Homo sapiens: one gene and its partners. The protein of the gene in region 1 purifies or fractionates together with the protein of each later gene. This does not show direct contact. Each region holds a gene or a part of one and is shown on either strand. Other genes may lie near its edges. The genes, in order: CDK13, FKBP5, TUBA4A and SPSB3.

What was found.
Region 2: the proteins of CDK13 (region 1) and FKBP5 purify together in Homo sapiens (affinity purification with mass spectrometry; 4 studies listed by BioGRID and IntAct, with this or other methods). This does not show direct contact.
Region 3: the proteins of CDK13 (region 1) and TUBA4A purify together in Homo sapiens (affinity purification with mass spectrometry; 3 studies listed by BioGRID and IntAct, with this or other methods). This does not show direct contact.
Region 4: the proteins of CDK13 (region 1) and SPSB3 purify together in Homo sapiens (affinity purification with mass spectrometry; 3 studies listed by BioGRID and IntAct, with this or other methods). This does not show direct contact.

Annotation. Positions count from the first base shown.
Region 1 is NC_000007.14:39,945,383-39,953,277, reverse strand, and holds the start of CDK13 (cyclin-dependent kinase 13), read right to left. Parts: upstream 3,023-7,895; 5' UTR 2,637-3,022; coding exon 1,426-2,636; intron 1-1,425. UniProt on the Homo sapiens protein: Cyclin-dependent kinase which displays CTD kinase activity and is required for RNA splicing.
Region 2 is NC_000006.12:35,685,916-35,693,265, forward strand, and holds the start of FKBP5 (peptidyl-prolyl cis-trans isomerase FKBP5), read right to left. Parts: upstream 3,001-7,350; 5' UTR 2,889-3,000; exon of another isoform or gene 2,817-2,888; intron 1-2,816. UniProt on the Homo sapiens protein: Immunophilin protein with PPIase and co-chaperone activities. Component of unligated steroid receptors heterocomplexes through interaction with heat-shock protein 90 (HSP90).
Region 3 is NC_000002.12:219,250,917-219,258,072, forward strand, and holds the start of TUBA4A (tubulin alpha-4A chain), read right to left. Parts: upstream 3,003-7,156; 5' UTR 2,943-3,002; coding exon 2,940-2,942; intron 2,504-2,939; coding exon of another isoform or gene 2,492-2,503; exon of another isoform or gene 2,327-2,491; intron 1,315-2,326; coding exon 1,092-1,314; intron 798-1,091; coding exon 649-797; intron 408-648; coding exon 1-407. Other genes in the region: TUBA4B (tubulin-like protein alpha-4B), read left to right, coding at 2,492-2,503. UniProt on the Homo sapiens protein: Tubulin is the major constituent of microtubules, a cylinder consisting of laterally associated linear protofilaments composed of alpha- and beta-tubulin heterodimers.
Region 4 is NC_000016.10:1,779,552-1,787,521, forward strand, and holds the start of SPSB3 (SPRY domain-containing SOCS box protein 3), read right to left. Parts: upstream 3,021-7,970; 5' UTR 2,951-3,020; exon of another isoform or gene 2,482-2,950; intron 2,272-2,481; exon of another isoform or gene 2,215-2,271; intron 2,181-2,214; exon of another isoform or gene 2,165-2,180; coding exon of another isoform or gene 2,096-2,164; exon of another isoform or gene 1,945-2,095; coding exon of another isoform or gene 1,933-1,944; coding exon 1,807-1,932; coding exon of another isoform or gene 1,642-1,806; exon of another isoform or gene 1-1,641. Other genes in the region: cytosolic Fe-S cluster assembly factor NUBP2, read left to right, coding at 3,470-3,485, 6,986-7,104, 7,206-7,404.

The DNA of each region.
Region 1 (7,895 bases):
TGAGTTTTTCAATTCTTCGCTAAGGTATCAACTAACATTTTAAGTATGCTTCAACACTCTTTAAGAGTGAAGCAATTTATAGAACTTTTTTGGCTTAAAGACAAACTCACGCTCAGATCTCTATAAACATCACACCTTTACATTTATTATGGTGATACTTCAAAAAGGTCTGCTAATTTTGCAGATGCATATTCGTATTATGTTGAGATTCCACATAACCCATACTTAGAGGTACTGTACATCCACTTGCCATTACTGAAACCCAGGAGGAAAAACTGATACAAATGTCATTTTGCAATACTCTACACTATAAGGTCTGGAATGTCCAAACATCTCAAGGAATATAAGAACCCATAAAATACTCGAAAGTTGTTTTTAATGCACTTTGCTTAGTGGATAAGTATATTTTAAGGCACACTTTTTAAAAAGAATATTATATAACAAAAAAGGCAAGAAAGCTACAGAAAAGTTTTACTCCAATTTCATTAAATTAAATTACACCTTTTAAAGATTTCTGGACAAAGATCCTGATATTTAAAGGTCTAGTTATATTGTGTTTTTATCCTTCGGGTATATATCTAAGAAAAAGTCTACTTAGCTTTTAAAGTAAGCAGTTACAGGCTTATAATAGTATAAGAATGTACTCAGCCATTCACTTGGTTACACTAGGTTACACCACCCAGATTTATAATGTTATTAGCAACTGGGTGTCATCACAAACCAACAAAGAAACCACAGTCTTGTCATTTTTTCTACCTTCTATAATTATGACTTTGAAAGATCAGGTAAAAACTATCCCACACAAGAATATCACTAAATAGATACCTTTTTTAACTTCAGTATTCAGAACTATCGGCTTCCACCTAAGCTTTTTTAACATACTAAAAGAATAAACTTTACAGAAAGGCTGCTTCTCCCATTTCTGTAATAATCATAAGAAACATCTGCAATCCACATCTAACTCTGACATCAGTACCTGATTCTTATTCCCCTGTACAATACTAGATCTTAAGTTGCAGTCCATTCCTAAATTCCCAACAATGAAACCTCTTCACAGAACTTTCAAAATTAAGACTTAAACCACCTCTAGGTTTACCCAAATTGTACCAGAAAAGCAAAGAGCAACTGAGAGAAACCTGTTAACACATTAATGCAACAAGTCTGAAACTTTTAATTCTTCCTTAGAAATCTTCCCTGCCACAGCTAGGAGAAAAGTTCCCTTCGCCCAGTTGCTTTGTCCCTTCGACCCCCTAAAAAAGTGTCACGCGCGCGAAAACGCCTATCCTTCCTGGGAGGCTCAGGCGGTGTTGTCTCGTCTCGGTGGTGGACCTGAGTCGTTCTGAGGACCCGGGCACCACTTTCCCTTCCTCCTGGGGATCTGGCCAGCGCAGCCAAGGCACACACAGGCAGAACGGCAGAACTCACCTGAGCACAGGGCTGTAGGGACTGCGAGAGCGGCGCCAGCTGCTGCTGCTGTAGGGACTAGGGGACACGTCGCCGCCCCGCTCGTAGGAGCTGTGGCGGCTGTAGCTGGGGGAGCGGCGGCGACTGTAGGGGCTCGGGGAGCGCGGCAGCCGCCGAGAATAGGGGCTGCTGCCACCTCCTGCCGGGCTGGGGGACTTGCGGCTCCTCAGGCTCTGAGAGGCCCTGTGGGACACCGGGCTGTCGTCCCGGCCTCCCAGTGGGCTGAGGGACCGCCGCCGCCTGTAGGCCTTAGGCTCGGTCTTGTCCTCCCGGTAGGCCTTGGGCGGTTCCTTGTAGGCCGAAGGCGGCTCCTTGGACGACTTAGTCCGGCTGCGGTGGGCCTTCGAGTCCCGGTCCTTGCGGCTGCTACTGCTGCTGGATGTGGCCGAAGCGCTTTTCCGGCGGCCGCCGCTGCTGCTGCTGCTGCCGCTCTTGGCGACCTCGGCCCGTTCCTCGCCGCTGTGGCTGTGGCGGCTGCGGGACTTGGAGGCCTCGCTGCCACCGCGCTGCCCATCCCGCCGCCGGTGCTCGCGGTGGCGCTCCTTGCTGCGGCCACTGCTGCTGCGGCGGTCCCGGCGGGGCCTGCGCTCCGACCCCTCCCCGCGCCGCTGGGTGCCGGAGGAGGAGGCCGGACTCCCGCCGCTGCCCCCCGTTCCCCCGGCAGCCGTCGCCGCCGTTGCCGCGCTGGCCCCCCCCAGCAGCAGCCCCTGCTCGGACTGGGAGCTCACATCCTCGTATTCCACCAGCGGGGTCACACCCCCGCCGCTACTAGCACCGCCACCGCCGTCCTGCTGCGGCTGGGGCAGCGAGAAGACCCGACGCTTCTCCGCCTCCTGCCCGGCGCGGGGCCCGCGACGCCGCTTCTGCCGCCCTCCTGCGCGCCTCTTGCCTCTCGCCAGCCGCTTGACCTCCAGAGGGGGGCCCGGGCTGAAGCAAGAGGAGGAGGCCGCGGCGGCGGCGGCTGCGGCGGCGGCCGTGCCGGGAGCAGCCAGGAAGAGCAGAGGCGGCGGGGGCGGCGGCGGTTGCAGGAGCTGCGGCTGCAGGAGCGGCAACAGCAGCGGCGGCTGCTGAGGGGACAGGAATCGCCTCCGCTTGCGGCGTTCCTCCAACTTCTTCTCCGCCCAGCTCAGGCCCCCGCCTCCCCCCAGCGCCGTGTCCGAGCTGCTCGGCATCGCCTAGAGCCAGCCGCAGAGCGCGGCGCGGGTGCGGCCTCCTCCCGGGTCAGATCCTGGCCATCTCCCCCGCCGGAAACGGGAGCGGCGGCGGAGGGACACCGAGCACCAGAGCCGGCCGGGAAAAGCGCCACGATAATCCGGGTCGGGACTCGGGTCCCTGGGTTCCAGGTCACAGTGGGGTACGCAGCAGCCTCCGGGCCCCAGGGAAGCAGGAATCCGGGCGGCGGAGCTCCCGATTGCGCTCGTCGTCCTATCCTCGGCAGCGAAAACACCAGATGCGCCGGGCGCTGACCTGCGGGGGAGTCCCGAGTCCTCCAAGTGCCCCCGGGGGTGGGGGAGCGGCCTTGGCCGCGCTCTCGGCTCGGGCAGCGCAACGCGGAAGTACCACCTTCGTCGCCGCTTCACTCCATCGCGCCCTGACGTTGGGTGCAAGTTCAGGGGAGGGGAGTGGGCGAGACAACAACACGCCTCCACCGCCTCCTCCTCGGCGTCGACGTCGTCCTCCTGTGGTGGCGGCGACACACCGCAGGCGCCTCGGAAGTGGCCTGGGCCTGACAACAACTCCCGGCCTAGGGCCTCGCGCACTCTGCGGCCCGCGGGGCTGGGCAGCGGGGCGGGGCGAGGCGGGGGCGACCGGGCTGCGGCTCTCGGTTGGGGCAGCGACTGTGCGGGGCTGGGCGGGGGGCTATTTCCGGGGAGATGGGGGCAGGGGCGTTTCTGAGTCTGTGGCGGTAGGTACGGGCCCTGACTTTCTTCTTCTTTCGCCGCCGCCGCCGCCGCCAGCAGAGGTGGCGGAGCTACCCCTTTCCTCCGCTCCCCCCCTCCACGAGGAGGCTCCTGGTGTGCGCGGCCTGCCCCGGCTCGCTCCTCCCCTTCCCTCTCCGCTCCTCGTCAGGAGGAGGGAGAGCAACGGGACTTGCTGGTTGGGCCCTAACCTCCACAACCCCTCCTTCTCGCCTCGCTCTTTCGGCTTTTCCCCTCAGCCCTGACGTACGACCGGGAGCGCGCCCGCAATTCACGCTCAGAGAAAGCCGAAGATGAGAGGTGGCCGGGGCAAGAGAGGCGGGAACAAAGTTACCGCGCACTGGCGTGCTCGCTCCCGCCAGGGGCCGGCAGGCCGCACCGGAAGTGGCATGATGTAGAAACCGCTCGGCTTCCGGCGAGGGTGGGACTCCGTGTGAAGAAGGGTTAAAGAAAGGAGAGGATTCGTGTGCCGCCCACTGCTGTTGCTTGAGACTCTGCCCGTGGTGGCGCGCCTGTCGTGCTTGTTGCTTGCGTCCAGCGCGCAGTGCCGGTTCCGGCTCTGCAGACGCCGCACTGCCTGCCTGTTGAGCGAAAGGTCACAGTGAGAACAAGTGTTTCTGGAGACTGCGAGGGAAATAATGCTGTTGGTGGCCTTCTGGAGTAGGCAGTTACCCCCCGTGTACCTTCAGTCAAGCCCTGGGAGTGGAACAGCTGCGAAAGGAGAGAAAACACCCCGCAAAACAGGGTGGAGATGGCGTTGGTTTAACTTGTCTCACGTACGCCAAAGTTCGAGGCCCCATTTTTTTTTTTTTTTTTTTTGAGACTGAGTTTCGCTCTCGTTGCCCAGGCTGGAGTGCAATGGTGCGATCTCGGCTCACCGCAACTTCCGCGAGGCCCCTTCTTATCCTAAAAAACACACTTGGGAATCACAGCTCAAGCTTCGGTAACACTATTTACTTTAAAATAAAAATTTTTAAAGCTTTAAATCAATACAGGAAATAAGTGGAATGTTAAAAGGAACTACTGAAAATTCCAAATTCTCAGGAGGCTTGAAATAAAAACATCTTGTGCGAATGAGGACTGCCCTCTTAGTACTTCACCCACTTTCACCTTCATATCTAAACCTTTGGGGTTGCCAAACATAGCCATATAGTGACCTCACATCTCATTTCTTGCCTTAGAATTGCCCTTCAGTTACAGACTAAGCACTCGGGATAATTAGATTAAAATGTAAATGGCTTATTGGCTTTTAGAATGGTTGGAAACGCAAGCTAACCCTGTGCAGTGGCACACGCCTGTAGTCCCAGCTACTCCGGAGGCTGAGGCAGGAGGATCTCTGGAGCTCAAGAGTTCGAGGCTGGAGTGAGCCATGACCGTGCCACAGCACCCCAGCCTGGCCAATCAGCAGGGCGAGGCCCTGCCTCTAATAAAAGAAAAAGCTAAGCCGTCTGTTCAATGACTAAATGTAGTAACCCCTTTGAAAATTCATTTGTTCAGATCATCAGTTGGTTTAGTTCTTAAACACTTGGTATCTATCCATCGTTAATACCTTAGTGTAAATTATTTTAATCAGTTTGACATCACAGTATCACAGACTGGCCTGATTTAAGCTAAGATCAGACTTCACTGACCGAGTACAAAGGATGTTGGTTTGCTGAAGGATAAAGGAGGAGGCAAAGGAATAGGTAATCTTAAAGTCAGAGCATTTCCCAGGAGGGCAGGCCTGGGTGGGCAACACCATGGGATGGGCATTGGGAAACTGAATAGAAAAATAGGGGGCAGGGTTCCTAAAACAAATTTCTGGTTGACAGTATTGTTGAGTGAAGGTCCTGTAGCCAGCCTCCTACCAAAGACTGTTTAGCAAGTGGCTTTTTCAGAAACATGTAGGATCAACTTGTTCCATCGTCCTACGTTAGATAGACTGGAATAACAGAACAAAGAGAGCAAATAAGAGGTTTAGCTTGCAGCTCCCCTCGTGTACAACCAGTTCCACTTGAGAATGTCATCTTCTATCATATATTTTCAAAGAAAACTTGATCCATAGTAAATGGATAATTCCCATGTGTAAGTGTATTAAATGGAGAAGAAGGGAAAAAAAGTAAATGGATAGTTCCCAATCCAGGGTGCAAACAAAAAACATGTACTAAAATATTTTTACTGTGGTTCTACCACCCACGTTTCCTCAAAGATTCTACCTTTGGTGGGGGAGGTTGAATGAACATTTTGAGCTCAAGATACCTGCCCACGTGGTTGGAAACACTAATAACTAATAGGATTCAAACTCCAAAAAATGGGAAGGACCTTTGAATTAGAAGCCGTCTGTTTCTATAAGCCTGTCTGCTTGCCTGAATATTAAAGAGATTTGAAATTCCCATTTACGACTATATTTTTGTTTATTACTGCTTGTGTGTGGGGGGGTGGGGAGTTCGTGTTTTGTTTTGTTTTTGTTTTTGTTTTTTTTGAGACAGAGTTTTGCTCTTGTCGCCTAGGCTGGAGTGCAGGGGTGCAATCTTGGCTTACTGCAACCTCCGCCCCCCAGGTTCAAGCGATTCTCCTGCCTCAGCCTCCCGTGTAGCTGGGATTACAGTTGCCCGCCACCATGCCGAGCTAATTTTTTTGTATTTTTAGTAGAAACGGGGTTTTGTCATGTTGAGCAGGCTGGTCTCAAACTCCTGACCTCAGGTGATCCGCCCGCCTCGGCCTCCCAAAGTGCTGGGATGACAGGCGTGAGCCACTGCACCAGGCCCCAGACTCATCTTTTATGCAGTTCAGAGGCCCACAGTGTTAGCACTTTTTTTTCAGAAGTGCAATATTGCTTCTATGTGCTGGGGAGTGGGAATTCTTGCTGGTTCAGTAAAGCTGAGGGATACGTATTTATAAAACAGTAATGGTGGAGTAAACTTCTAGCTGTCTTCCTAAATGGATTTTCCCTTGATTACCTAAGTAACAGTATCCTGGGTTTGATGGGGGTAAATGTGCCTAGCTAAAAACTACATCTCCCAGTATTCCTTGCAGATAAGACGTGATCATTGGCTCCTGCCAATGAAGTGAAGTGGAAGTTGTTGGGCGAAGCTTATGGAAATGATTCTTAAAAAATGGAAGGTCAGGGCCGGGCCCGGTGGCTCACGCCTATAATTCCAGCACTTTGGGAGGTCGAGGCGGGCAGATCACCTGAAGTCGGGAGTTCAAGACCAGCCATGACCAACATGGAGAAACCCCGTCTCTACTAAAAATGCAAAATTAGCCCAGTGTGGTGGCGCATGCCTGTAATCCCAGCTACTCGGGAGGCTGAGGCAGGAGAATCGCTTGAACCCGGGAGGCAGAGGTTGCAGAGGCTGCGGTGAGCCCAGAGTGCACCATTGCACTCCACCCTGGGCAACGAGAGCGAAACTCCATCTCAAAAAAAAAAAGGAAGGTCAGTTTCGCTGACCTGTACCTTCTGCCCCTCACTCTTACTTCTTACTTTTCTCTACATCTGGAACTCAAATGCAATACTGGAGTTTGAGCAGCTGTCCCATGACAACAAAGGAATAAGCACAGGCTAAGGATGGTGAAGTGAAAGGAAAATAGAAAGACGTGACTCCTCGGGGGCATTATGGATCCTTCAAACCAACCCTAGACTAAAAAAGGAATAATTTGTTTAAGCCACTGCTATTTTCAATTATATTACAGCCAAATTAAGTTGCTAAATATTACCATGTGACCCCATGTCCTCATTCCATTCCATGGTAGGTATCATTAATTAATGGCAGCACTCCTTCCTGCTCACCCTAAATGTAGCCTCAGAATCCCTCAGACACGGTGATGCAGTCATCCATTACCAATAGATCAGGGATGGTACTAGCATTAAACTTATTTTTCATGTTGTCCTAAAATAATTTTCGTGATTTTTGGGGAGTTGGTTTTTCCAAAAACTTAAGATTCATGTCCTGGCCCCAAACTACATTTTTTTTTTTCATACGGGGTGTCTCTGTTGCCCAAGCTGGAGTACAGTGGTGTGATCTCAGCTCACTGCAACCTCCACCTCCCAGGTTCAAGCAATTCTTTTGCCTCAGCCACCCAAGTAGCTGGGATTACAGATGTGCGCCATCACGCCTGGCTAATTTTTGTTTTAGAGACGGGGTTTCACCCTGTTGGTCAGGCTGGTCTTGAATTCCTGACCTCAAGTGATCCACCTGCCTCGGCCTCCCAAAGTGCTGGGATTACAGGCGTCAGCCACCGCACCTGGCCAAATATTTTTTATTCTTTAATTTTACAAGAATGTGTAGGTCCTCTTAGGAGATAAATATTCATGAATATTTGGAAGTTCAACTAGATAACAAGAGTATTTCAAGTTACTAATTACATGAACAAATTTGAGAGAAACAAACATGAACAATTCATCTGTGTTTTGTTAAAATTTCTCATAAGTAGAATCATTAGCATCTTAAAATATAATGCTGATGACGATATAGGTCACAGGAAATCTTTTCTACCAGAACTTTTTTTTTTTTTATTTTTGAGACAAAGTCT
Region 2 (7,350 bases), on another chromosome or scaffold:
AGGTTGCAATGAGCCGAGACTGCGCCCTTGCACTCCAGCCTGGGCAACAAGAGCAAAACGCCATCTCAAAAAAAAAAAAAAAAAAAAAAGCAAAACTAATGTCTATAATAGTGGCATTTGATCTAGCCTCAAAATTAGTTGTTTTAATGTAAGCCCTTGTTTTCTGTAGCTTCATTTATTTAAAAATACTTACTATCACCTCCAAACTCAAAAGGAGTTATACCTGAGGGTAAATGGCTTTAAAAACACTCCCAATGTTTATTGTGTGGATTTGAGAATTCAACTTATGCTTAATTTTTGAAACTGAAATTGTAGTTGATAATTTTATGATATCATCTATTACAAGTTAAAGTAGAGAAAAATCAGTAATTAAAATATCTAAAAACTAAATTTTAAAATGGGCTTTTAATTAAACCTAAAGTTAATAAAACTTTAACTTTTATAGTTAAAATACTAAAATACACATATGTAAATAAATTTATGAAATGCAACTTTATTGTATGTGGTTTATATACATACATCATCACAGAATAAGGACAATAAACAACTAATTATTAATAGTATTTTATATATTTAAGTACACTAAAGAGCAATTATATAAATGATAAAAAATAATGGAAGCTACAGTCTTATCCAGTTCCTTTCAACTATTTACATAGAATAAGCCCTCCGAACGTGAGGATGAATTATTGTTCAACCTATCCACACTAAACATCAAAAAGCCAACTTAGCTTTTAACAGCAGTAACTTCTTCTACAGGTATACAAACAGGATGTTCTTTCCTCTCCAGACTAATTCATCCTAAGCAGAGAAGCCTTTAGGAAACTAAACTGAACCCAAAATATGCATTATTTTCCAAGAATAAACAGATAACTAAAGATTTAATAAGTTGCCTAATGCAATATTTTAAGTTTTTCATTTGAACTGATTAAAAATATGTTTTAAAAAAGAAATTCACCCAAAATTCCCATAACTAAAAGAATTAAAGACTCAGAAACATACAAAGACCTCATAGCTTGTTATGGAGAAATAAAACAATAAAGACCACTATATTCTTTTTAATCTAAAATAGTCACAATTATTGGTTGAAGAGTTGATGGTTCAATGGCGAACTCTTATCAGCTATTAGCTAACTGTAATTACCTAGGCAAATAAGTAAAATGACCATTCAATGAATAATAAACTAGCATAATTAAATCAAGATTAGCAACTTTGTTCTTAACTTAAACTTAATCTCCGAAGTATAAATCTTACCTAATACAGATATCAACCAAGACACATTAGAAGAAAAAAACTGGGTAACTAAATAAAGTGTTTCTCACAAATAATGAGTATTAATAACCCTCGTTTTAAAAATGTCATTTGTATAGAATCTCTAAATTGGTCAGGGCCATAATTGCAGACTGTCAGGCAGAGGTCAGCTGGGGGAGAGACAAACAGAAAATGGTGAAGTGAAAGTATGACAATAAAAATTTCCCACCAGAATAAGAATTTTTTTCAAGTCGATTCTTGGCTTTTGATTCAAACACCAAGAGAAGCAGCTCCCTTTAGAGAATTACTTTATAATTCTCTAAAGTAAAAACCCTTATGGAGGAGGTGGATAGAATCCCAGACTATTAAAAATACTTAACCAAAATATGCTTTAACTTTTCCCTTGTCCACAATCTAACAAAATGGGAAGACAATGAAAATAAACACTCCTGTCTACACTCAGAGAGGCAAAGAAAGCTCCCATTCAGTAGTAAGCCTTATTCCACTGGAAAACATACTCCTGAAAAGTAAATCCAAAACCACGAGCTCAAACTGCTTCATGCAGAATTTACTGAACGGCGGCCAAACGCTGAACACACTGTCCTGAACCACACTGAAGGGTATCTACAATTCTGCATCTCCGCTTACAACTTGAAACTTACTACGCTTTCGCCACCACTGCAGAACCCGATTTTAGAGACTACGATGGTCCTGCCGGTTCGTTAATCGAAGAAAGCCACTCTGCACCCTGACGCTCGTAGTGTCTTTTTGGTAATACTGGTTTTTGACTCTTATACTGTGACCGGTGCACCTTTTTGGACGACCAATAAGGCGGAAGACGTTTTCACGTCCCAGAACAGAAGAGCATAAGGAGCCCTGGCACAGCGTTCAGCCGCTTCGGTATGGCCTGGGAGTGACGCGGATCACCTGTTAGACGGCGCTGCGCGGACTCCTCCACAAGCGGCCGACAGCGGCGATGCGGTTCCCCAACGCTTGTCCCGAGGCGGCAGGTGAAGGCGGGGACCGCCCGTCCACACCCGGAGCGCGGCCACCCCGCCACCATCCCCTTCACAGCCCCGCCAGGTGGGCGAATCCGCCCCGCGCCCGCGGCGTCCCGGCGCTCGGCTCGCCCTGGGGTCCGGTTGTCCCGGCGCCCGGACCCGAAAGCGAAGTTTGGCTCCCGCCCGCAGCGGTGCCGGCTGAGGGTCCGGCCGCCTGTCCGGGGAGAGCCGGGGGCCAGAGACCGGAGGCGGAGCGGGACCTGTCATCCCGGGCGGGAAACAAAAGCCCAGTGAGGACGGGCGGGCGCGACCCGCCTCGCCTCTGCCGGGAGAGGCCGGCGGGGGCGGAGAGCGGCGCCCGCGGTCACTAGTCTCCGCGCCTCCCGCGGGGAGCACCGGCCCCGCGGCCCCTGGGGCGCGGCGAGGGGCGCCGCAGTGGGGCCGAGGCCTCCCGCGCGCTCCCCTCGAGGCTTCCGGACCCCGCTCCCCCGCGACACGCGGCTCCTGGGCTGCGAAGCCGCGTGGGGGTGGGAGCTGAGGCAGCGAGTGCGACCGCGGCGGGACCTGGAAGGAGGGCGTTCGGCTCCCGGGGCGCCGCGGCCGGCCGCCCCATCTCCGTGGCCATGGCGCCGGTACCTGTCGCCGCGGGGGCTCGCCGACTCCGTCACTCTCCGCCTTGCCCGTGCTCCGCTAACCCTTCAGCCCGCCCAGCAGGCCGCCCGCGCGCCGGACACCGCCGCCCGAGACTGGCAGCGCCCGCGAGCCGGCCCGAATCCCCGGGGCAGCGCCCGGCGCCGTCCCGCCCCAGCCGGCCGCAGGACCCGCCTTCCATAGGGCCCCGGGGCTGTCAGTCCGCCCCCAAAAGGCGCGCGGGCTGTCGATCCGCCTGTCCGGATTGGTGGCCGCGCGCCGTCCATGCAAATGAGGCCCCGCCCCCATCATTTGCTCCTCCACCTCCCCACGCCAGCCCACGTGTCTGGCCCTTGCCCTTTGTGGGGGCCATAGAGAAGGGATGGTGGAAACTGACACCCCCTCACATCTCTTACCTCCCGAGAAATTAATGCCTAAGCAAGCTAGTTGACTTCCCATCTGTATCGTCTCTCTGAAGGCACTGCCCCTCCTATCTGTCCACAGGGCCTACCTAGAGGCCGGAGAGGGGCAGGCCAGGCTGTTTGTTAGGTCAGCTGGCCAGGTTAGCCCTAGGAAGCAACCCCATTAAGTCTAAGATGCCCAGTCGGGACTGGGGAAATCCCACCTCGAGAACCAATTTAGCAGATATCACCTCCCTCTGGACACCCAGTGACTGTAAAGACCATACTTTCTCTTGGCTTGCTACCTTTCAAGCAGGAGATCCCAGGAGATTAAAACAGGAAGAGGCCTTACGGCTGAGTTCGGCCAGGTGGGGTGGCTCACGCCTGTAATCCCAGCACTTTGGAAGGCCGAGGTGGGCGGACCACGAGGTCAAGAGATCGAGACCATCCTAGCCAACATGGTGAAACCCCGTCTCTACTAAAAATACAAAAATTAGCTGGGCTTGGTGGCGCGCGCCGTCCCAGCTACTCGGGAGGCTGAGGTAGGAGAATCGCTTGAACCTGGGAGGCAGAGGTTGTAGTGAGTCGAGATCACGCCACTGCACTCCAGCCTGGTGACAGAGCAAGACTCCATCTCAAAACAAAAACAAAAACAAAACGGCTGAGTTCTTCCGCCAACTCCGAAAGGTAGACTGCCAACCAGATGGCTACCTCTGAGTTACTCCCATAGAGATGCAGGAGCTGCACCTGGGCCTTAGGGAATCTCTAATCAACTCTCTCATTTTTAAGGAAACAGAAACCTGATGTCCCATAGCTAGTTACACGTGGGACCTAATAGTTACCTATGGAAACCTAATATCCCATAGCCAGATTAGAACTCATGTCTCCTGGCTCCAAACCTGCTCTCTTTGCACTATACTGCATTCAAACATTTATGAAGAGCCTCGTCCAGAAATCGCCATGCTGCCTTCAAGAGATGATGCCTGGGCGCCGGGCGCGGTGGCTTACGCCTGTAATCCCAGCACTTTGGGAGGCCGAGATGGGCGGATCACCTGAGGTCGGGAGTTCGAGACGAGCCTGACCAACATGGAGAAACCCCGTCTCTACTAAAAATAATTTTAAAAAATTAGCCGGGCATGGTGGCGCATGCCTGTAATCCCAGCTATTCAGGAGGCTGAGGCAGGAGAATTGCTTGAACAGAGGTTGCAGTGAGCCGAGATCGCACCATTGCACTCCAGCCTGGGCAACAAGAGCGAGACTCCATTCTAAAAAAAAAAAAAGGGTGATGATGTCTGCAGAAAAGACAAATAAAGCCAAGACTGAAACCGCCTCGAGGGCAGGGGTTCTGTCTCAGTCATTTGTCTGTCCTCAGTGCCTAGAAGCTTCCCTGTTTACCAGTTGCCGAGGGGAGTCACTGAAACAATGTATTTGTTCATTAACGCAGAAAAACAAAGTTGATCAAAATTCCTCTGCATACTAATACCAATTGATTAAGCATCTACTATGCTTAATAATAGCACATATTAGGCAGGGCACAGTGGTTCACACCTGTAATCCTAGCACTTTGGAAGACAGAGGTGGGCGGATCACCTGAGGTCGGGAGTTCGAGACCAGCCTGACCAACATGGAGAAACCCCATCTTTACTAAAAATACGAAATTAGCCAGGCATGGTGACGCATGCCTGTAATCCCAGCTACTCGGGAGGCTGAGGCAGAAGAATCGCTTGAACCCGGGAGGCGGAGGTTGCAGTGAGCCGAGATGGCACCATTGCACTCCAGCCTGGGCAACAAGAGCAAAACTCCATCTCAAAAAAAATAATAATAAATAAATAAAATAAAATAAAATAAAAATAACAGCACATATTAAGCTCTATGCTATCAGGGTATATATGTCCCAACCCTCAAGGGCTTCATTAGGAGACAGTGACATACACGTAACATGTCAGTTCTCCTCTTCATGTTACAGGGGTTGTGACAGATGTCTGCATAGGGCACAATGGAAGGCGCCAAGGAAAGAGGAATCAGCTCTTCCTACGAGAGGCAGGGAAGGCGTCATTGAAGAGGTCACCTGACAGTAGAGCTGAATCTTAGAAGATGAAGTAGGTGTTTGCCAGACAGAGGGGTGTGGACAAGGGGGAAAGGGACTCCCAGGCAGGAGGGGACAGCGTGAGCAAAAAGCATGCAGACCTGGAAAAGCCTAATAATTGAGGGAACAGTGAGGAGCAGTGTGGGCAAATCTGCAGAGGGCTGTGTGGACGTGTCACATGTCTGGGACCAGGCTCTTCCAGGAGGAAGACAGAAAGGCAGGGGAGGCTGCCAGGCTGTGTTGTAATACACCGCAGCAACAACAACAGGCCCTGTAGATACAGCTACACGGTTCTTTTTTTTTCTAGGCCAGAGTCTGTGGAGAACAGTCAGTTCCACAGTTCCGATGGCAGCCTTGCTAGCCCCACCCACTCTCCCAGAAAACCACTCTGATCACTGCACTTGCCTTCCTTGGCATTTGGAAACACATGTGCTTGCATTTTCCCTAAACATTACTGCCCTTCAGAATTCAAAGATGACATGCGCTATGGCTGCAGATACCTGGATGTGGGATGAGCAGCCCTTTCCTAAGGCACAGTACGGTTCTTTGCAGGGTCTGTACCTAAGACCAGTTCCATGGGTATGTGACCTGTGTAGTACACAGGGCCGTGTACTTAGAAGAGCCCTGTGCTGGGTCTAATGCTCTGCTGCCGCCGTCTTGAAATTCTTAGTACTTTCTCAACAAAGGGCCCTGCACTCTCATTTTTCACTGGGCCCTGCAAATTATATGGCCAGTCCTGCCTGTCACTGGTAGTGACCCTGGGCATGCTTGTGGAACTGCTCAAACCACATCTCATTTTAAAAGCACTTCGCATTCACTAGACTCATTCACATGCATTTTATCATTTGATTCTCTTTTTCTGTCTTCCTTTTTCTTTTAGAGACAAGGGCTCACTCTATTACCCAGGCTGGCCTGGAACCGCTGGGCTCAAGAGACCCTCCCACCTTGGCCTCCTAAACTGTCAAGATTGCAGGTGTGAGCCACCTTGCCCGAACTTATCATTTGATTCTCACAATGGGGTAGGCCAGTGTTACTCTTTATTTTCATTTATTACTTGAAAAAATTGAAGTTTGGCAACTTTCTCCAGGTGGCACAGCTAGGAAGTAGCAGAGCTTGTACTTGAACTCAGCCCAGGCAAGCCCTGTTCCAACTACTACCGAGCTACCTTCATCTTGGTTTCAGAATCCTTTTAAAGGCAGCTTTGTACATTAAGGTTTTTGAGAGTCAGAGTATGCCAGGCGTGGTGGTTCATGCCTATAATCCCAGCACTTTGGGAGGCTGAGGTGGGCGGATCACCTGAGGTCAGGAGTTCGAGACCAGCCTGGCCAACATGGTGAAACCCTGTCTCTACTAAAAATACAAAAATTAGCTGGGCGTGCGCCTGTAGTCCCTGCTACTTGGGAGGCTGAGGCATGAGAATTGCCTGAACCCAGACGGTGGAAGTTGCAGTGAGCCAAGATTGCACCACTGCACTCCAGCCTGGGTGACAGAGTGAGACTCTGTCTCAAAAAAAAAAAAAAAAAAGAAGAGAATACACGGTAGAGTGGATATCTGTCATTTCACGGCTGCCTATCACCTTTGAATAGTTTTTCCTCAGTTTTGAACAATTCTCAGACATTATATGTTCAAATACGATTTCTGTCCTTTTTCTTCTTTCTTTCTGGGGCTCCAGTTGAAACACATTCAACCTTCTTACTTCATCCCTTTATTCTGTATTTTCTGTCTTTTATCCTTCTATGCTTTGTCCTAATAAGTTTCTTCTATTTTCAGCTCACTCAGTCTCTTTTCAGCTAAAAAAAAAAAAAAAAAAAAAATCTCATCTTAAACCCAACCATTGAGCTCCATTTGGTTATTCTATTCTTTTTCTTTTCTCTCTCTCTTTTTTTTTTTTTTTTTGAGATGGAGCCTGGCTCTGTTGCCCAGGCTGGAGTGCAGTGGCGCGATCTCAGCTCACTGCAAGCTCCGCCTTCCAGGTTCACAC
Region 3 (7,156 bases), on another chromosome or scaffold:
GGCACCAGGTTGGTCTGGAACTCTGTCAGGTCCACATTGAGGGCCCCGTCAAAGCGCAGAGAAGCTGTGATGGAGGAGACAATTTGGCTAATGAGGCGATTGAGGTTGGTGTAGGTTGGGCGCTCGATGTCTAGGTTGCGGCGGCAGATGTCATAGATTGCTTCGTTGTCCACCATGAAGGCACAGTCTGAGTGCTCCAGGGTGGTGTGGGTGGTCAGGATAGAGTTGTAGGGCTCGACCACGGCTGTAGACACCTGGGGGGCTGGGTAGATGGAGAATTCCAGCTTGGATTTCTTGCCATAGTCAACAGAGAGCCGCTCCATCAGGAGTGAGGTGAAGCCAGAGCCAGTGCCCCCACCAAAGCTGTGGAACACCAGGAAGCCCTGAAGTCCTGTGCACTGGTCAGACTGAAAGGCAAGAACGAGAAAGAACAGTTTAGGTAGGGGAGGGGCCTGAGGGACTCTATCACCTGGCTCCATAAAGCGTAAGATACATCAGCAGTCAGGGCAAATACTGAGGATGCCATAGCAGCACCACACTCGAGACCATGTATAGTTAGAGATGACCTCCTGAAAGGATCTGAAAAAAAATATTCCTGACCATTAGCACAGTCTCAAAAGTTCCCTCCCTCCCAAGACACACTCTCACCAGCTTGCGGATCCGATCCAGCACTGGGTCAATGATCTCCTTGCCAATGGTATAGTGACCACGGGCATAGTTGTTGGCAGCATCCTCTTTCCCAGTGATGAGCTGCTCTGGGTGGAAGAGCTGTCGGTATGGGCCATTTCGGATCTCATCTGGAAGGGCAAAAACCACAAAGCTATGCTCAGCAGGGACCTTCCTCCCCCAGGGTGGTAGCTGTGGCCAGATGCATGGAAGGACTCATCCTCCTGCCAGCCTGAGATACCAGAGTGTGAGAGAAACCCAGACCAGCTGCCCAGGCCAGTCTCAGATCAGCTTGCCTTCTGCAGCTTCAAGTACGGCTAGGAATTTTCAGGGCTAGGAATGCCTGGTCTAAATACCCTCTCTCTCCAGGGAGAAGCTTTGAGTCATGCTCCACCCCCTTCAATTTTGTCCCCACTTCCTCTCACCAATGACCGTAGGCTCCAGATCCACAAAAACTGCCCGGGGTACGTGTTTTCCAGCACCAGTTTCACAGAAGAAGGTGGTGAAGGAGTCGTCCCCTCCACCAATGGTCTTGTCACTGGGCATCTGCCCATCAGGCTGAATCCCATGTTCCAAGCAATAGAGCTCCCAGCAGGCATTGCCCATCTGGACACCTGCCTGCCCCACGTGGACTGAGATGCATTCACGCTGAGGGATAGAGAGAGGGGACACAGCATGAGCCCCACATCCACAAGTCCTCACCTTGCGAGTCTCTCTTCCACCCTATCATCTACCAGCTAGGATGACTCAGTTGGCAAGAGTGGAGGGTTGGGGCTGGGCAGAGGTGAGAAGAGAGTAGCAGCCTGCCCGGGCTCCCAGGTACAGGACTCCCCACCTGGAGGCACCCAGCAATGCAGGCCAACCTCTTAGCCCACTTCTCAGTGGGGAATCTGTCAAGTGAGCACTGTGGCTCCACATGACAAAAGGTTTCCTAGAGGTATGGGTTTACAGCTAGAGGCCCCCCCCCCACTTGATTAATTATTTGCTTTGAGTATGAACAGCTAGAATTCATAGAACCCTTTCCCTCTTTCTTTCCTGTAAGCTGCAGAGGTGTCTCAGCCATCCAATCTGGCATCAACTGACCACACGCCATCAGGATGCCCTCCTCCCTCACCTTTAAATCCCATCTGGCTCTGGGGATCAATCCCATCTGGCTCCTCTCCCCACCTCCACCCCCGCACCCTGGGTGTCTTCACCACTTTCATCTCCCGTGTCAGCCCGCACGGAAATAGCGGCGGTAATGCTTGTAAGCTCAGACAGCAGGGGCCAGCAATAAGGTTTGAGGGTACTGGGGCGCTCACTGCCTTAGGCTCCGTCCCTGTCAGCCCGAAATTAACCCCTAAAGCACTAAAGTCCGGCAGGGCCCGCGCGCTCTTCCCACACCGAAATGGCGGGGTGACGGTTTCCAAATACCCAGAAAGGAAGTGGAACCTGCGGTGAGGCCCCAGAGGTGACCCGCCTTGTCCCGGGCAGGATGGGCGCCATCCTGCAGCCCAGCCCTACATCCGCTCTCCCTCTGGAGTCTTTACAGTTATTTCCCAGCCCAAAGCGGGGATTGGGTTTCGGCCCCCGCTCCTGGGCTATAAATACCACCCCCTACATGCACCTCTCTCCCCTCCCCCCAACCTGGCCTCGGCCCGCGCAGTGCTCAGCGCCAGCTGTCTCTGCCCATCCGCGCACCCGGGCTTCGGCTGGAGAGGGCCAGCTCGCTTCAGGAGGCCGAACCCCGTTCCCACCAACCCTCTCAGCTCAGACGCGGGGTGCTGAGTCACGGGGGGGGGGTGGTTCTGTGGATAGTTGGAATGCATACACAGAGGAAAGGGGGATGCGGCACCAGGTAACCTGACCCCTTCCACCTTCTAGCGCCAAGCACGTGCTCGGTCAGTGCTGAGGACCAGGGACTGGGGATGTAAGAGGGCAGCCAAACCCGTCTTCTTTTGCCCGCGGAAAGGACGGGGCGCGGGCCCGCGTGACTCTCATACAGAGTCGGGACACAAATGCTCGTAAGGCAGGAGCAGAGTGCCAGGAAGGGTTCCTCTCTGTTACTGAAGAGTCGCACTCCACCCCAAGCCCCAACCCCAGCCACCGAAGGTGAACTATACGGCTCGGCCAAAGTCACCAGGAGGGGGTTGGGGAGGGAGGATGCAAAACCCTCGCACCTCCTGGAGACCCGGAACGCCCGGTGGAGGTCCCCGAGCATGCCTGGAAGAAGTGTCCCCCAAAGGAGAGGGGCAATTAGGGGACAGGCGCGACCCCGGCCGGGCCGCACTCACCATGGTGAGTCCGGGCGGTGCGTCTCACGTTGAGTCGGGGTGACAGGTCTCAGTGAGAACTGCGCTAGCTGCAGTGCCGCACCGCCCTTATAGGCGGGGGGGGGGCGGGGCCCGCGTTCCCCGCTCGCCCACTAGAGGCTGGGCGGCCCGCAGGCCACGCCTCCCGGGAGGGTAAGCGGCCCCCCCGAGGGGCGGAGCCTGGCCTGGTACCCTCCCCAAGCTGCGCGGGGGTCCCTCACCTGTCCCGCTGGGATTAAGAGTCGCGATTCGGGCTTTAACCATTCTTTCCTCGTTTTGAGCAGACACGCTGGGCTCCCGAGGGCCTCCGCGGAGATGCAGGGTGCTGTGGCAGGGCGAGTCTCACCTGCACCTGCGTCCTGGAGGCACCGGTCATCCAGGTGTTCTGACTTAGGTCGGGAGCAGGCGAGGCGGTCCTTCCCAAGCGGCCACAGCTGGCCTTCACCCCTGCCCTTCCAGCCCTGCCTCCCAGGAGACTCGGGCCGGCTGTGAGGCTGTGGCGCGTCCCCGGGGAGCCCTTGCCAGCTGCCTGACGCTTCCTGGTCCCCGGCCGGGGCGGCAGCCTTTCGCCGACGCCTGTGGGCGGCCGAGGACCCAGAACTGCACAGCCTGAGCCCCAGATTGCCAATGCCTTAGGCGCTCCCGCAGAGTCGAGCCCCGCAGCCTGTCTGCCGGGGCCGACCCCGGAATCTGCCGCGGCTCGCCGGCCGCCCGCGGGTCAGTGGCGCTGTCATCAGCGCAGTCACTATGATGCCCTCGCTGAGGGCACCTGCCCACTCCCCTGCTGCCAGAACTGCGGGAGCGCTGACCGGGGGACCTCAGGACCTGGATTCTCCTCCAGGCTACCCTGTGTGACCTTGAGCAAGTGACTTAACCTCACTGAGTCCTTGACATTTTCGTGGGTGAAAAGGAGACAGTGATGTCATAGTGGAAACATTGTTGTAAGCTATCAAAATGTCTGTTGCCTCTGAAGAGAAAAGAAGAAAATCGAGATTCTCATATCTTGGATGATTCTGACTCTTGGTCTCTTCTGTCTCTAACCCAAGAGCAGGATCTGCAACCCGCACCTTAATGGTCTCAGCACTCAGCCCCTGGTCTCCGCAGAAGCCCTTCTTTCTACATTTCATTCCGTTCTCTCCACCCCATCTTTTCAAGCTACTTCTGCTTTCTCTTTCTCTCTCTCTCTCTCTCTTTTGAGTCAGTGTCTTGCTGTGTCACCCAGGCTAGAGTGCAGTGGTGCAATCTCAGCTCATTGCAACCTCCATCTCCCGGCTCAAGGCCATCCTTCTACCTCATCCTTCCACCTCAGCCTCCTCAGTAGCTGAGACCACAGGCGTGCACCAACACCATGCCCAGCTTATTTTATTTATTTATCTATTTTTGAGATGGAGTTTCGCTCTTGTTGCCCAGGCTGGAGTGCAATGGCACGATTTCGGCTCACCTCAACACCTGCCTCGCGGGTTCTAGCGATTCTCCTGCCTCAGCCTCTGGAGTAGCTGGGATTACAGGCATGGATGCCTGGATGATTTTTGTATTTTTAGTAGAGACGGGGTTTCACCATGTTGGTCAGGCTGGTCTCCAACTCCTGACCTTAGATGATCCACCTGCTTCAGCCTCCCAAAGTGCTGGGATTACAGGTGTGAGCCCCCACACCCGGCCTTATTTTTTGTATTTTTAGTAGAGACAAGGTCTCGCCATATTGTCCAGATTTGTCTTGAACTCCTGAGCTCAAGCGATCCACCCGCCTCAACCTCCCAAAGTGCTGGGATTACAGGCCTGAGCAACCACCCCAGCCTGCCTTGCATTTTCTAATTGTCTCCCTTCACTGGGGAAAGTCATCTGGCAGTGCCCCAGGTGCTGCTGGTTTGCAGATCTTAAGAAACCTGTCTTCCTGGCTCTACATCACTTGGAAAGGATTCACCCCTCCCTCCCCCATCACCTGACAACACAACATAATACCATGAAAGAACTAGTGATGGCAACTCTCTATCAACAAAATAGGCAAGGCATGGAAAGGAATATAGTGAAATATGACAAGGTCTTTCTTCCCAGTAGACTTGCCATCTGATTGGGAGAACAAGACTCATTCATAAAAAGAAAACTGACAGGGGCGTATAATGAGGCTTCTTTGGGGAATAAGGTCATGGTCCCTACAAAGAAAGGAGCCGTGGTGACTATAGGACACATGGCAGTAGGTTGCAGACCCTCCCTGAACCTCTTTTTCCTTGTGCTCTCCTATCCTAGCAGAATGAACATAGTAAGAGACTTGAGCTATCTTAGGAAAAACTCTAAACCTCTTTGACCTTCAGGTGCAGATTCTTCATTTGTAAAACCGGGATAACAACTTCAGATTGTGAATATCAGATGAATTTAGAGATGTACATATTCACATCAAGGCACTGTGTAAGTAGCTGTGACATTTATTTTAGTGCATATAGCACATCATGCTATAGTTATTTGTGTACATGTCCATCTTAATATTATAGATAGCAAACTATTGGAGGTAAGGACTGTGTCTTATTCATCTTTGTTTCTAGCTCCTAGCATAGTGCTTAGCACACCTGGTAAGCATTTGCTAAGTGTGTGTCAGAAGAATTGTTTCACTTCAGAGATGGTAGGCAGAAGAATGCTACCCCATAAAGATGTCCACATCCTCATCTCCAGGACCTGTGACTGTTACCTTACATGGCAAAATACTTTGAAGATGTTATTAAGGTAAAGATCTTGAGATAGGGAGATGATCCTGGATTATCCCAGGTAGGCCCAGTGTAATTTCAAGGGTCCTTATAAGTGAAAGAAGGAGGCAGGAGGGTCAGAGTCAAAGAAGAGGTCAGACCTGGTGCAGTGCTCATGCCAGTAATCCCAACACTTTAGGAGGCTGAGGTGGGAGGATCACTTGAGGTCGGCAGTTTGAGACCAGCTTGGGCAACATAGTGAGACCCTGTCTCTACCAAAAAATAAAAATTATAAAATAAAGAAGAGGTCAAAAGTAAGTAGAGGTCAGAATGATGTGATTGTTGGCTTTGAAGAGGGATAGGGGCCATGAGTAAAAGAATATGGGCAGCCTCTAGAAGATGGAAAAGTCGAGGAATAGATTCTCCCCTAGAATTTCCAGAAGGAAGGCAACCTGGCCAACACCTTCATTTCAGTTCTGTAAGACCCATTTTGGCTTTTTTTTTTTTTTTTTTTTAAGATGGAGTCTCACTGTTGCCCAGGCTGGAGTACAGTGGCGCGATCTCGGCTCACTGCAAGCTCCACCTCCCGGGTTCAAGCAATTCTCCTGCCTCAGCCTCCCGAGTAGCTGGGACTACAGGCATGTCCCACCACTCCTGGCTAATTTTGTATTTTTAGTAGAGATGGGGTTTCACAGTGTTAGCCAGGATGGTCTCGATCTCCTGACCTCGTGATCCACCCACCTCAGCCTCCCAAAATGCTGGGACTACAGGTGTGAGCCACTGCGCCCAGCCTTTTTTTTTTTTTTTTTTTTTGAGGCAGGATCTTGGCCGGGCATGTAATTCCAGCACTTTGGGAGGCCGAGGCAGGTGGATCACGAGGTCAGAAGTTCAAGACCAGCCTGACCAACATAGTGAAACCCCGTCTCTACCAAAAATACAAAAAATTAGCCAGGTATGGTGGTGTGCACCTGTAATCCCAGCTACTCAGGAGGCTGAGGCAGGAGAATCGTGTGAACCTGGGAGGCAGATGTTGCAGTGAGCCAAGATTGCACCATTGCACTCCAGCCTGGGCAATAGTGAGAGACACTGTCTCAAAAAAAAAAAAAAAAAAAAAAAAAGAGACAGGAAGACAGGATCTTGCTCTCTTGCCCAGGCTGGATTGCAGTGCTGAGGCAGGAGAATCGCTTGAACCAGGGAGGCAGAAGTTGTGGTGAGCCAAGATTGTGCCATTGCACTCCAGCCTGGGCAACAAGAGCGAAACTGTCTCAAAAAAAAAATATATATATACACACACTATATATATATATTTTATAGATATGGGGTCTTGCTGTGTTGCCCAAGCTGGTCTAGAGCTCCTAGCCATAAGCTCTTCTCCTGCCTTGGCCTCCCAAACTGCTGAGATTACAGGCATGAGTCACCTGGCCCATTTTGGGTGTTTTTTTTTTTTTTTTTTTTTTTGAGACAGTCTCTCTGTGTCACCCAGGCTGGAGTGCAGTAGTGTGATCTCAGCTCACAGTGCAATGC
Region 4 (7,970 bases), on another chromosome or scaffold:
CCACCCCACAGACAAGGCAGGCCCAGACAACTCTACCCCACTGCCTAGAAGTGCGGGTCCCCAGAGCCAGGGTAGACCCCCTGAGTCAGGAGCCCGGGCACAGAACTGAGCACCTGCACTGCAGGCCCAGGGCCGGGTTCCCTGGAGAAGGAGAAAGACTGAAGCCACTGCCTACCTCCTGCCCACAACAGACTGCAGGCCCATTTGGTGACACAGGACAAGCAGCACATGTGTCGAACACTGCCGAGCCCGCAGGCACGCCTGCATCCCACAGCCACGAGCCTGTGAGGCTCAGGCATGTGACCTGCAGGAGCTGGAGGCGGGCGGGAAGGCAGGTGGGGGCCTCTCCCTGGCTGGAGCAGGGAGCTCCAGGAGACCTCAGGACGGCCCCCACCCGGTGGGTAAGGACCCTGTTTCCCAATTTGCCCCCAAGGCCTAATGGACCCACCGGGCTTAGGGAGTCCTCACTCAGAGGAGAGGAGCCCACCCCTCCCAGGACACCTGGCTGAGCCGGAACAGCAGCGCAGGGGAGCTGTGACAGCAGAGAGCAGCACCAGGTCACACAAGCAGCCGCCCCGGAAGGACACGGCCCATGGTGACAGAGGACAAGCAGCATGCGTGTGTCAGACACTGGCCTGGCCTGTGGACACGCCCGCGTCCCACAGCCATGACCCTGCGAGGCCAGGAGAGACTGCTCCAGGGCACATGACCTGTGGTAGCTGGAAGTGGGGCAGGGAGGCGCAGCCACACTCCTGCTCTGGTCCGAGGGAGATCTCAGGAAACCGACTGGGAAATCACCCCCCACAGGGACCCCCACCCCTCCCAGCCTCACTGCGCCCGTCAGGCCAGGCAGCTGCCCTCAGGGTCTGCCAAGGTGGGGGTCAGGGGCCATGGGGGCAGGTAGCTCTGCCTGCAAAGCCCACAAGCATGTCAGATCACCTGGGCTGCAGACAGACAAACACCTGAGCTGTTCTGAATACCTTCAGGTTCCTGGCCTCCCTGAGCAAGTGCAGAAATTTTTACCTTCAAGGATCAGGGTTTTTCTGTTTGTTTGTTTTTTAACACACATATATGTGAACAAAGAGTATGCGTTTGTACTGGCAGAAGAAGCGTCTGGTAAGACAACCAGCAAGTTAACAATGGTCACCTCCAGAAATGGGCTGGGTAAACCAAAGAATTTTTTTGTTTTTGTTTTTTTTGAGTCAGGGTCTAGCTCTGTCACCCAGGCTGGAACGCACTGGTGTGATCACGGCTCACTGCAGCCTTGACCTCCCTGGCTCAAGCAATCCTCCCAGCTCAGCCTCCTGAGTCGTTGGGACTACAGGCACGTGCCACCACGCCTGACACATTTTTTAAATTTTTGTAGAGACAGTGTTTCACCATGTTGCCCAGGCAGGTCTCAAACTCCTGGGCTCAAGTGGTCCTCCAGCTTCAGCCTCCCAAAGTGCTAGGATTATAGGTGTGAGCCACAGTGCCCAGCCCCGTAGTGGAGAATTTCTGTTGAATGAACCAAAAGCAACTGCCAACCTCTCCATGCACCATGTGTTTCAGAGGAGAAAGCACAGTGAAGAATGCAGTGTGTTCTGAGGTCCTGTCACCCCTGAGGCTGTGTGTGTCCTTTGCCAAATTAAAGAGTCTTACTGAATGCGGTGCATCCAGGAGACAGGCCCAGGTTTGGACTGGTCCTCTAGCCTCAGAAGCATCTTTTTCTCCGACTGATTCCGTGTTCAGGTAATGTCTGCCTGCCTGCCTAGGGCATCTCCACACCTTAGGCCAGCCACGTCCGCCTCGCCCGCTGGAACCTACCTGCCCATCAGAGTCGTAGCCCCAGTTAGTGGAGCCTGCTAGAGCCACGGCCCGGGCATCTGCGTCTCGGCGGGCTGCACTCAGGACGAAGTGCCAGGCCCTGCTGTTCCGGGGGCGTCTGGCCATGGTGGAAAGAATCTAGAAGAAAACACAGGCTCTGGGCAAAGGAAGACTCACAGCACTCCCAGCCCTGAGCTTCCAGGCTGGGCCACGGACCCACTCAAAGTGGGGACTGCAGGGGCCGCACCGGTGCCCAGCCAGGGCTCCAGAACGCTTCAGGAGCCCGTACCTCACTCCAGGATCTGAGCAGCTCAATAAAACCCAGGTAGATCCTGTGAAACGCCACCCAGACACCCATGACTCCGGAATGCGAATCCCAGCCCCTCTCTCCGGTTCCACCTCACGAACCTGGCTGCCCCGCCCGCCTGTCCCGCAGGCATCTAAAACCTCCACTCGCTCCTCCTCTGTCGTCCGGTTTGACAAATGGCATCTCCGGCCTCCCAGTTCCTCATGCCAGAAGCACCGTGACCGCTCCCCGACACCTTCCCCTCACGCCCGGCCCGACCGCCGCACCCGCCTGCATCCTCCTCCCGCCACCGTCTCCTGGGCCGCGCAGCTCGCCTTCCCCTCCGCTCGCTACCGCCAGGGCTCCTCGTGAAACACAAATCTTAAAACCTGCTCAGCGCTGGCCGCTGTTATGGTATAAAATGCAAAAGGCTGCGAGGGCCAGGTCTGCGCTTCCCAGGCCACCTGCCTGGCACCTCCCTCGCCAGCTCCGGGGTTCCCGCCTAGCCTTCCAGGGCCGACCCCTGCGCCGGGCTCGCGGCTGGCAACGCCCGCTGGGCCCCGGGTGGGGTTCCAGGGAGGCCGGGGCGGATCGCGGCGCCCGGACCGCCGAACCCTGCCCAGCCCCAGGCGAGCGCGTGTGCAGCGGGAGCCGCCCTCCCCGGCGGCAGCCCGGCCTGGCTGTTCCCTCCCGCGGGCGCGCGGGTTCCGGAGTCGGCGGCACCGGGGAAGCCTCTCTCGGGCGCGGCCCTCCGGAGAGGAACAAAGGCGGCGCCCTGGCCGCGCTGCTACCGCCGCGCCCGCAAGGTCAGCGCGCCCGCCCAGAGCCCGAGACGTCGGCCCGTGCCCCGCCACTCACCTGCAGCCCCCGCTGCGCGCTCCGCCGGCCCGGCCCTGACCCACTTTCCGCCCCGGAGCGAGACGTAAACAATCCCCGCCCCCTGCGCCCATTGGCTCCGGCGGCGAGGGGCGGGCACACCTGTCTCGGAGCTTCGGGAGAGGGGGCGGGAGTCGGGTGACAAAGCTATTGCCGAGAGGTTTCAGGAACTGTCAGTCCTAATCCAACGTTCCTATTGGTCAGTTCCCAAGCGGTTGGAGACAAAGCTCGCGCGCACATTGGACCCGGGTGGGAGGTGGTACCGCAGGCCGCGTTGACCGGAAAGTAGGTCCGTGTCATCGTCTGCGCCGGAACCTGCGGGACCGGATCGAGAGCTCCTCCGGCAAGCTGATTGGCTGGGACAGCAGGATTAGGCCTGTCAAGAAGAGCCACGGGCGGGCACGCACTGCCCATTGGTTGGAAGGCCCTTCGCTCTAGCTGGGAGGCTGACGGCCCGCGGGCGTAAGCGGACTGCAGCCGCGAGCTCCTGGAGGCGGCGGGATGGAGGCGGCGGCCGGTGAGTGGCGGGCCAGGGTGCGGAGCCGCTCCAGGGCCTCGCTTGGGGCCCCGCCGCGTCCCTTCCCGGGGCGGCCTCGCTGCGTCGCGCGCCTCCGGTGCGACCATCACCGGCCGGCGTGGCTGGGCCGGGCCAGAGGCCGCGGCGCGGGCATTTTCTAAACAGGGTCGTTTCCCGCGTGCTCCTGCTTCGATGTGGAAGCTCCGTGATCTCGGAGGGCCTGAGTCGTGGAGTTGGGGGAGCTTTTAAAGTTAACTTTGTTGAGCACCGCGTTGTAGGCGGGCGCGGTGGCGCCTGTGGGCCCCGCTATCCTGGAGGTCGCGGTTGCAACTGCACCGCAGCCCGGGCAAGAGCGAGACCCTGTCTCTAAATAAATCACACGCGCGCAGTCATGAAAGTAAGACGGACGCCAGAATCTCACATGCTTTTAAGTTCTTTGTGGAAGTGGCGCTCTCAGTGTTCAGAAAAGTGTAAGTTGCGCGGGACAGAATTCACACCAGTGGGGACGATCCGTTCGCCAGATCAGCGCCGTGGGCCCTCCTGAGTAGTGGGAGCCGCATTTATCTTCTAAGAGACCTCGAGTCCGATACCAAAAGGAAAACATTCCTCGGACAGCAAGGTCTTGCAGCACAACTCTGACAGATTAGAAACCGAGTGCTGGAGTCTTTTGTTTTTGAGACGGAGTCTCGTTCTGTCGCCCAGGCTGGAGTGCAGTGGCGCGGTCTCGGCTCACTGCCAGCTCCGCCTCCCGGGTTCACGCCATTCTCCTGCCGCAGCCTCCCGAGTAGCTGTGACTACAGGCGCCCGCCACCACGCCCGGCTAATTTTTTGTATTTTTAGTAGAGACGGGGTTTCACCGTGTTAGCCAGGATGGTCTCGATCTCCTGACCTCGTGATCCGCCCGTCTCAGCCTCCCAAAGTGCTGGGATTACAGGCGTGAGCCACGGCGCCTGGCCCAGTGCTGGAGTCTTATTCCAGAGGAGAAGCCTGGAAAAGCCTGTCCTTATTATCAGGACGGATTTACTACAAAGTAAGGATATTACTGAGATTGATAGAAGCTTTTTTTTTTTTTTGAGACAGGGTCTTAACTGTCGCCAAGGCTGAAGTGCAGTGGCACGATCATAACTCACTGCAGCCTTGACCTCCTGGGCTCAAGCGACCCTCCCACCTCAGCCTCCTGAGCACCTGGGACCACAGGATGCACCACCCCGCTTGGCTACATTTTTAATGTGTAGACATGGGGTCTGAATACGTTATTGAGAGTGGTGCGGAACTCCTCCTGGACCGAAATGATCCTTCCACTTTGGCCTCTCAGAGTGCTGGGATTACTGGCGTGAGTCACTGCACCTAGTCCAAGCTTTCGTTTTTTTGTTGGGGGGAGACGGAGACTCGCTCCGTTGCCCAGGCTGGAGTGCAGTGGCACAATCTCGATGACGGCTCACTGCAATCTCCACCTCCCAAGTTCAAGCAGTTCTCCTGCCTCAGCCTCCCAAATAGCTGGGATAACAGGCACACGCCACCACGCCTGGCTAATTTTTTTTGTATTTTTAGTAGAGACAGGGTTTCGCCATGTTGGCCAGGCTGGTCTCGAACTCCTGACCTCAGGTGATCCACCCACCTCGGCCTCCCAAAGTGCTGGGATTACAGGCGTGAGACACCGCGCCCGGCCCCAAGCTTTCTTTAAACGGGGAAAATATGCACATAAAAATTCAAAAGGCCTAGGCTGGGCAAGTTGGCTCATGCCTGTAATCCCAGCACTTTGGGAGGCCGAGGCGGGCAGATCACTTGAGGTCAGATTTGAGACCAGCATGGCCAACATAGAGAAACAGTCTCTACGAAAAAAATAAAAAATTAGCTGGGCATGGTGGCGCACGCCTGTGGTCCCAGGTACTCTGGAAGCTGAGGCGTGGGAGGCTGAGGCACGAGAATTGCTTGGACCCAGGAGGCGGAGGTTGCAGTGAGCCGAGATTGCGCCACTGTACTCCAGCCTGGGCGACAGAATGAGACCCCCTCTCAAAATAAAAATATACATTTACTGTAAAAATATATTTGTCCACCACGTGGAATGATCTGGATTTGCTAACCCATAAAGCTGACCGGGACTCATTGTCCATGGAGAGCGCACTCGCCTTCCTCGGGGAGATGGTGCTTCGCCTCCTTCCTGCACTTCCAGCCCCACTGCCCCACCCGGCAGGCTCATGCTGACTGTGCTTTGCTGACAATCTGCTTAGGAGCTGCCTCAGTTTGCTGAGAAGTGAAATGTTCTTGGGGGAACCCTCAGGGTTGTTGTCCCGGTTCCTGACACTAAGGCCTGCATTTACCATGGTGCTCAGCCCAACACACCAGACAGGCACCATTCCCCCACCTCTGCCAACGAGGAGAGCCCCTGGGGGTTAACACTGCCGCTGGTGCCAGCACTGATGGCAGCATGGCAGTCAGGACCCAGGCCTGACAGAGTCCCCGGCAGCTACAGAAGTGCATGCTCCCTCTCTGCACGGGCCACTTCTGGTACCTCTTGGTGTTGAAGTAATTTAAGTCAGAACCCCTTTTATTGCCCCAGGGGTGACCGGGAGGCCGTGGTCTCGGGGCTTTGTGTTTGCAGGAGTGTGGGGCTGGGGCTGCCTTTTCCGCGTCCCCTGGAGGAGACCTCAGGCAGCCTCTGTAGGTCTGAGGACCCGCCTGCATGCCAGGTTCTCCGGGAGGCTTTGGACTTGGGAGCCTTTGAACGTGCCCTTGAGAGGCGGATCAGAAGGGGGCAGGTTTTACGCATCATGTGTTGAGCCCCTCACATGCACCCTCCAAGGACCTGTCGGGGATGGAGCAGCTTGCTGGAGACAAGGGGCATGGCCTCAGCGGTGGCGCCGGGGTGAGAATGCAGGGGTTTTGCCAAGGTATCTGCACACAGCAGCCCCTGCCGTGTGGCAGGGACAGGATGGGACCCTGGAAGGAAGAGGAGCTGGAGCTGTGCTGGAAGCAGCCGGCTCCCCTCACTTACCGCACATTGCAGGGACCGAGAGCCGGGGACGCTGGTGTGTGACAACGCGTGGTTGTTGCCACCCACCCTGGGCCCTCTGCTGCCTCTGCCGAGCCCAGGTGCACTGGCTGGGGAAAGAGTGGAGTCTGGTTCCCGTTAGAAATAGCAGGGGGCTGGCAGTTTCATGATCATGTGACCCACGTGTGTGTTTGCACACGCGCACGAAGGAACGCATGCACCCTTCCACACAGCGAGAGGAGTTGGGCAGTTTCCACTCTCAGCAGCGCCGCCTCAGGCAGGTGCAGGGAGTGCCGTGGTCTTAGAGGGTCCCCCCGGGTCTGGGGCTGCAGGGGACCTGCCTGGAGGTCTTTACATCGGGGCGAAGTGGGGCACGGGCTGCCTCTGGGTCTGGCGATTCACCACTGCCCCGCTCAGAACGTGGGTGCAAGAGGCAGTGGGTGACCCCGCGTGTGTGGGCACAGTGGGCACCAGGAGCCCTGACCTTCTCTGTCGTGTTTCCGCCCAGAGCCTGGAAACCTGGCCGGCGTCAGGCACATCATCCTGGTCCTCTCAGGAAAGGGGGGCGTTGGGAAAAGCACCATCTCCACGGAGCTGGCCCTGGCACTGCGCCATGCAGGCAAGAAGGTGAGCGCCCTACCCCTCACTGGGCGGAGCCCCGGGCAGCTGCCCGCATCCCGGTGGAGGCCTGGCGGTGCCCCCGGCCTAGGCTGTGCCGCTCCTTGCAGGTGGGAATCCTGGATGTGGACCTGTGTGGCCCCAGTATCCCCCGCATGCTCGGGGCGCAGGGCAGGGCTGTGCACCAGTGCGACCGCGGCTGGGCACCCGTCTTCCTGGACCGGGAGCAGAGCATCTCGCTCATGTCTGTGGGCTTCCTGCTGGAGAAGCCGGACGAGGCCGTGGTGTGGAGAGGCCCCAAGAAAAACGGTAACGGCCGGGCGGCGCGTCCGCCGTCCTGGTGAAGGGGGTTAGCGTCCGTGCCGGCCTCTCCTGTGGAAATGTTCCTCTTCAGCAGCCAGGCCTGTTCCTGGGGACCTGCACATGACACCCACGACCAGGCACAGGGCTCAGGCTGGCGGTGTGTCTCCAGTTGGGTCCGTGCTGCCACACAGCTGTCCCCAACTCCCGGTCAGAGGGAGTGGGGTCTGCTGAGACCCTGGCCATGGCATGCAGGGACCTGAGGCCCCAGTGTGGCAGGTCATAGGGGCAGAGCTGAGGGGGTTCTGGTGCCTCTGGAGCAGGTGGCATTAGACGCCCCCAAAGGCAGGGAGAGGCTGGTGGGAGTGAGGCGCAGGCTGTGGGTGCACCAGTGGGGCATCCACCACGGAGAATGTGGGTGCTCCCATGTGTGGGTACAGACGCCTGGAGGGTCCTGGCTCCGTGTTCTGATTTGGGGCCTCGGGGAGTCAGCGGGGGCTCTGTGGGCAGGGGCCAGACACTGCAGAAAGGGACGCTGTAATGGCCCCGGCCCCATCTTTGCACTCCTGCAGCGG